2 linked regions of the Homo sapiens genome follow. The protein of the gene in region 1 interacts with the protein of each later gene in a pairwise test. Each region holds a gene or a part of one and is shown in the gene's direction. Other genes may lie near its edges. The genes, in order: POM121C and CHRM3.

The links.
Region 2: the proteins of POM121C (region 1) and CHRM3 interact in a two-hybrid assay, tested with the Homo sapiens proteins (one large-scale study listed by BioGRID and IntAct).

What each region holds. Positions count from the first base shown.
Region 1 is NC_000007.14:75,434,050-75,437,874, reverse strand, and holds part of POM121C (nuclear envelope pore membrane protein POM 121C), read left to right. Parts: intron 1-188; coding exon 189-360; intron 361-3,825. UniProt on the Homo sapiens protein: Essential component of the nuclear pore complex (NPC). The repeat-containing domain may be involved in anchoring components of the pore complex to the pore membrane. When overexpressed in cells induces the formation of cytoplasmic annulate lamellae (AL).
Region 2 is NC_000001.11:239,392,931-239,396,755, forward strand, and holds part of CHRM3 (muscarinic acetylcholine receptor M3), read left to right. Parts: intron 1-3,825.

The sequences.
Region 1 (3,825 bases):
TTTAAGTTTTAAATATTTGGCTTTTCTTACTGACTTTGTCAGATAGATTTGGCCAGATTGTTAGCAGTAAAAATTAAAAGCATTATTCTCTTCCCTTCATGTTATTAAGAAAGATGTCATGACCGTGGATGAAATCGTAAAAGAATGTTGCCTTCAATAAAGCATCTAACTGTCTTCTCTTTTATTAGGCCTGGGTCTCTGAAGAGAGGCCTCAATTCTCAGAGCTCAGATGACCACTTGAATAAGAGATCCCGAAGCTCTTCCATGAGCTCCTTGACAGGCGCTTACACAAGTGGCATCCCTAGCTCCAGCCGCAATGCCATTACCAGTTCCTACAGCTCCACTCGAGGCATCTCACAGGTACAAGTACAGCTCTTGTAATGTGGGGGGCATGAATTCCCAGCGTTCATTCATTGATTAGGGCCAGACATGGTAGCTTAGCCATGTAATCCCAGCACTTTGGAAGGCCAAAGCGGGAGGATTGCTTGAGCCCAGGAGTTCAAAACCAGCCTGGGCAATATAGTGAGACCTTGTCTGTACAAAAGAATCTTTAAAGAAATTTTTTTAAATAAAGTAATTGGTTAGCAAAAGTTTACTAATCACCTTCTATCTGTTGGACATTAGGATTGTCTCTAACTAATAGAAAATACAGATCATTGAGTGATCAATATAGGCCAGCAGAACGGAGTAGAAAGCCCGGAATGTAAAGCAGTGCATGTGTGCGAGCTGATTCGAGACAGAGCTGTGATGTAGATAAACGGACAGAGGGTGATTCGAAAGGTAGACTGAGTCCAGCTTGTATTGGGTCATAAAAGAGATTTATAGGCATTTAGAATTGAGCGCAGGGTTTTTAAACAAGTGGTCATGATTTTTTGGAAAGGGGATTATTGCATAGTATAAGGAACAGAGCAGGCTTTGCTGCTGGACAGACTTAGATTCAAATCTTGGCTCTGAGGCTGGGCGGGATGGCTCATGCCTGTAATCCCATCACTTTGGGAGATCAAGGTGGGAGAACCTCTTGAGCCCAGGAGTTCAAGACTAGCCTGTGCAACAGAGCGAGACTGTGTCTCAAAGAAAAGGAAAAAAATGCTTGGCTCTGACATCTAGTAGCTATAAGGTCTTGGGCAGACAATCACATAACATCTCTTTTTCTTATCTCTGAAGTGCTGTTGCAATGATTGAGGGTAATATTTAAAAAGCACCTATTACAGTGGCTGTCAGTAAGTGGGTATCCAGTATACAGCAGCCAGACAAAAAGATGTAAAGCATGTAAGGAGAAACGTTTTTGAGACAAGGAAAATTTTGAGATGAGTTCATCAGCCCAGAAGGCTCTGAGTCATATAAATGAACATTAATAACCATAATACCATTACCCCTCTTAAATTATTAACCTTAATATTATTTAATATCTAGTTATTATTTTTGATAAGCAAACTTTTCCAGCTTTGGACTATGGGAGCCAAACTGGCTCCTGTATCCTTTATTTTGATCCCAGCAGTCTTCGACAGATAGCTTCATTGCTTTTTGCCCACCTTCCCAAAGTCCATTTTTAGCCTATACTGAAGTTGGTTGTTTCTTCAAAAAGCTTTGGTTTCTTCCAGTTAGAACTGTAGAGACTACAGTCTAAGTTTTAGGAGAGATAAGATAGACAGATCCTCTAGAAAGAGGAATGTAAAGAATTAATTCATAATATTCCAAATTCAAATTTATGGTGGCAGGATTTTTTATGTAATCTATTTGATTTTATATTTTTATGTATTACACCAAAAATGTTGGTTTATAATTACTTTGATCCTAGTACATGCAATTTCTTTTTTTTTTTTTGAGACGGAGTCTTACTCTGTTCCCCACGCTGGAGCGCAGTGGTGCGACCTTGGCTCACTGCAATCTCTGCTTCCTGAATTCAAGCGATTCTCCTGCCTCAGCCTCCCAAGTAGCTGGGATTACAGGCTCTGGCCACCACGCCCAGCTAATTTTTGTATTTTTAGTTTGACACAAGGTTTCAACATGTTGGCCAGGCTGGCCTGGAACTCATGACCTCAGGTGATCCACCCACCTTGGCCTCCCAAAGTGCTGGGATTACAGGTGTGAGCCACCATGCCTGGCCATGCAATTTCAAAATAGCAATATCAGTGTCATTATTAACACTGTCATTATTAAGACTGCTGAAGTCAGTTTAAGAATTGTGATTCATTTGGTCTTTATATCCCTCTGTGAATCCTAGGGACATGTAATCAATATATCATGTTTTAAAGTAATGTTAATTGTCCTTTGGGTACACCAACTTTATATACAGTGAGGTTCGTTTGTTCAGTATGTTTGAAAGTTACAGGGATTTCTATGTTTTCCTTTTTGAAATAGTTCTATTTTAAATTACATAAAATACTTGTTGTTTGAAAAAAATACGCTAAAACAAGATACACTCAAAAATTCAATTTCCATCCCTTTCCACTCTACATTTTTCCTTCCTCTCCATTTTTATTATTTTTTGATTATCCTTTGTTGTTCTTTTTTAAACGGTATGCGTATCAGTGTATCTGAAAACTGCCACCTTCTAACATTTAAGGTAGTAGACAGTATATATAGATTTGAACCTTGCTTTTTCACATAATAGACAGTTGACGTCATTCCATAGCAGTACACAGAAACTCATCTTTGGTCTTACAACTGCATAGGTACTCTAGTCCTCTATTGACAAACGTTGGGTTGTTTCAGTCTTCTGCTATCACAAATAATGCTGCAAAGAATACATTTGTTCATATGTCCTTTCACCCTTGGCAGTTTTGCCTCTGGAAAAATTTCTAGAAGTCAGATTCCGGTCAAGGGTTAAATGCGCATGTGATTTTGCTGGGTATTGTTAAATCCCCCTACAGGGCATGTACCACTCAGCATTCCCCTCAGTATTGAATGAAAGGGACCATTTCTCCCTGGCCTCACCAGCAGATTTGGTTATTGTAGCTCTGGGCTTTTACCAATTTGACAGGTAAAAAATAGTATCTAGGATGGGCATGGAGGCTCACGCCTGTAATCCCAGCACTTTGAGAGTCCGAGGCAGGCAGATCACCTGAGTTCGAGACCATCCTGGCCAACATGGTGAAATCCTGTCTCTACTAAAAATATAAAAATTAGCTGGGCATGGTGGTGCACGCCTGTAATCCCAGCTACTCGGGACGCTGAGGCAGGAGAATCTCAGGAACCCAGGAGGCACAGGCTGCAGTGAGCAGAGATAGCGCCACTGCACTCCAGCCTGGGCAACATAGTGAGACTCTGTCTCAAAAAAAAAAAAAAAAAAGCTAGCTGAGCGCCACCGTGGCTCACTCTTGTAATCCCAGCACTTTGGGAAGCCAAGGCAGGTGGATCACCTGCGATCAGGAGTTTGAGACCAGCCTGACCAACATGGCAAAACCCCATCTCTACTAAAAATACAAAAAATTTAACCAGGTGTGGTGGCGTGTGCCTATAATCCCAGCTACTTAGGAGGCTGAGGCAGGAGAACTGCTCGACCCTGGAAGGCGGAGGTCAAGTGAGCCGACCTCATGCCACTGCCCTCCAGCCTGGACAACAGAGTGAGACTCCATCTTAAAAAAAAAAAAAATAGTATTTAATTTTTGTCTCTTATGAGTAGTTTGATCATCTGTTCACATGTTGAATGATTATTTTCAGTTCTGTTTCCGTGAGTCTTAGTTCATATCCTTTACCCATTTTTCTGAAGGGCTACCAGCCAAATCTCACGTTCAAGAGTTTTTCCTATAGTAGAGAAACCTATTCCAAATGAAGCAAAGTTTTGAATGTAAAATAGAAGTGCAGTGTTACAAGAAACAGTCT
Region 2 (3,825 bases), on another chromosome or scaffold:
TGACATTCCATCGAGCTAGCTCTCACTTCCATTGAAACCTAATCCAGTGGTATTTTGTAGACTCACAATCCATATAAATTTTGGCTGAGCATAGTGGCATACACCTGTAGTCCCAGGTACTCGGGAGGCTAAGGCAGGAAGATCACTTGAGGCCAGGAGTTCAAGGTTATAATGTACTATGATTGCACCTGTGAATAGCCACTGTACTCCAGCCTAGACAACATAGCAAGACCCCCATCTCTTCAATAAAGAAAGAAAGAAAGAAGATCCCATATAAATATTAAATATTGTTGGGTTTTTGGCTTCAAATTGACAATATGTTGATGACTATATTTAAATGTATATCCATAGTCATTTAAAAATGTTATTGAACACAGTCTTTTTTGTGATTTTTCAATTTTCTTAGTGCAAAATAGTCTAAAAGCACAACTTCTGTTGTGGGAGGTCTCTCAAACGATTTACATTGAAAAGAAGTTCTCATACTTGAAATAGACGTGATGATCCTCCTGCCGTGTTTCCTGTGCTTTCTCACATGCCCGATAACACATGCCACATGCAGTAGCTTGTGTGAAGGGAGAGGTGATGGGAATCTGGAATGGCCATGATGTTTCTTTATATGGAGTCCTCCTTTCTTCTCTCCTCACCCCAGATCCTTTCCATCATGCAAGGACCAGCCAAACTCTTCCAGCTTTCCTTGAGCGCAGCTATCATTCTGTTTTTCCCTGTGACTAATTATTTTAAATCCCTTGATTCATTTGAATGTTAGAAACTGAAAATCGGTCTGACTAAACAACTACAAATCACTTCCCTCTACTCTGAATACTAGTGGCACTCACCATTTTTAATATAAAATTTGATGCTCAAGGATAACCCAGGTAGTATTTATTTTGATTCTCTCCAAAGAAGTTACCTTCATGAGAGTATATAAGTAAATATATAATAAATACATGTTTGAGTAGAATGAGTAAATGACTCAATCATTCCATCTATCTACCTATCAATTATCTATCTCTTTATATCTAATCCACCTATGTTCATTTACATAGGTGTTGTATATACATCCATTATCACATCTTTCATATCAGTATCATCTAATGTGCAAAGTACCATGGACATTCTGTTTTGGATACACAGTAAGTCAAGGGCTCTGCTTTTCAGAGCATATGATCAATGTGAGTGTAACTAAACAAATCTGGGTTGGAAGGGGATGTTAGATGTTGCGTGAATTTCTTAGGTTTTAAAACAGAAGTTTATTCTTTCACAATTCTGGAAGCCAGAAGTCTGAAATCAAGGTGTTGGCAAGACTGCACTTCCTCTAAAGACCCTAGGGGAGAATCCTTCCTTTCTTCCTTCAGCTCCTGGTAGCTATCTGCATTCCTTGACTTGTGAGCATATCATTCCAATCTCTGCTTCTGTGGTCACGTTGCCTCCTCCACCTCTTTCACTGTCTCCTCCTGTATATGCCTGTCTTATAAGGATATGTGTGATTGCAGTGAAGTCCCAGCCAGAAAATCTAGGATAAGCTCCTCCTTTCAAGAGCTTTAACTTCATCACATCACATCTTTTGTCATATAAGGTAATCACAGAACCTGGGGATTAGGAGGTGGGCACATCTTTTGGAGGGACCGCCATTCAGACCACTGCAGATGTCATTAATGAACAACTTTTGGCTTTGGACCTCTCTCTTGTGTTAAACTGTGCAGTCTGTATGTTTGAGAAATTAACACTCACCAGGGGGGTCATTCCATTTTCACAGAGCAGTGAGATGCAGATCCCCTTTATATTGAGCCAAAAATCTAATTCTCATTGTACTTATTTGCCTTCTTAATAATTCTGAGAATTATGATGAGAACACTTCTGATCTTTCTTCCACAAGAAAATCTTTAAAGTTGAGAAGTTTAAAGTTATTTCAACCTGGTCCTATGTGCCACTTCTAAATTTTCATGATTTTTCTTAACCTTTTCAATTACACTCACCGAACAGCAATCACACTCCCCTAATCTCATTACCCTCTGACTTTAAATCTTTTGACTCCTCTCATCCACCTTCATGAGGTTTATAGCAATGACTTCTCCAAAAGTCACCTGTAACCTCTTAGTCATAAAACGGGTAGCCCTTCCTTGTCTGTCCTGGTTAATCTCTTAGCAATCCCTTTAAACTCCCTTAATTTTCAGAGAATTATACCTACCTAGCTCTCTTCTCTCCTCTGGTTCTTTTCTCTTCTTCCTGTTCCCCACCCCTATTTTCTGCAGAGTGTAGGGCTTTCCAGCAATTTCTCCCTGGTTGACTCCCATACTCTTCCGTTGCCTCTCCTTTTGTACCTGCCTCTGTCTTCACGATTTCAAATACCCTTTCCATGTGGGTCACTTGGCTTCAGTAAGGAGCATTTCCATGTGCTTGCTGGATAGCACAGCCTTCCCCTCCTTCTTCCTCATCCTGTTCCCCTCCTGGGGTTCCTATTTCTATGAATAGCATGACCATCCTACAGCTCAAATGTTATGAATAAATCAAGTGATCTTGATTTATTCTCTTCCCTCACCTCCTACATTTAGCCAGGTACCGAATTCTAATGATTCAACCAAGTAAGATCTCAACCTTCTTGGCTACTTTCCCCTCCTGCTACCAATATCTTAATTCATCATTTCTGCAACTTAAATGTGCATTCAGATCACATAGGGATCTTGATAAAATGCAGACTCTGATCCATGAGGGCTGGGTTGGGGCCTGAGAATCTGCATTTCTAACCAGCCTTCAGGTGATGCAGATACTGCTCCTCTGTGCTCAGACCACACTGAGAAGAAAGGCTTTATGTTTTAGCTTTGTATCTTTTCTTAGTCTCTGAGCTTCCCAGATGATCTCATTGATCATATTATTGCCTTTGATCCATTTTACACAGATTACTGTTATTGAGGACCAAATGTGATCATCTTTCTCCTACCCTTGAACACCTTCTTTGACATCACCTTCCATTGCCTGTTGAATAAAGACTAAATGTCTCGCATCAGCTTCACCCTATTTCATGGCTTGGGTTTGCATGTTGAGTTCAGTCTCAAGTCTCAAGGTCACCCTTCACTTTACCCTGGTACTTGCTGTTGCAGGTATCCTCATCCTCTGCCACGTTCTCTTGCTGCATAGGATGCCCTTTGTGCCACATCATCAGGGATCCAAATTTTAGCAATTTGTCAAGGACCACTTGAAACGAATTCATCTTCTGTTACTCTATCAGAATCTCACTTTTATCCCTGATTACATTCACTCTTGGTTTTAGTGTGTGTGTGCCACAAATTGTTTGAAATATCAGACTGTGAACTCCTTGAAAGATGCTGTGTTTTGTTGGTCTTTGACTGCTTTCAAGTATCTAGTGCAGAGTCTTCTTCATAAATGCTCAGTGTGCACATTCGCATATAAAATATGTAAACAGGCACAGTGGCTCACTTTGGAAGGCTGAGGTGGGAGGATGGTTTGAGGCCAGAAGTTGAAGACCAACCTGGGCAACTTAGCAAAAAAAATCTCTACAAAAATTATTAAAAATCAGCTGGATTTGATTGTGCACCTGCCTGTAGTCTCAGCTATATGGGAGGCTGAGGCAAGGAGGATCCCTTGAGCCCATTAGTTCAAAGCTGCAGTGAGCTGTGATGGTGCCACTGCACTCCAGCCTGGGCAACAGAACAAGATCCAGTCTCGAAAAGAGTAAATATAGTGTTTTTGTTGTTTGTCTCCTTATAAAAGTAATATATGTCATACAAAAATTCAAACATTATGGAAATATATATCAAAAGTAAAAGTCCACCATAACCCAATGCCCCCAAAGACAACTATGGTTAA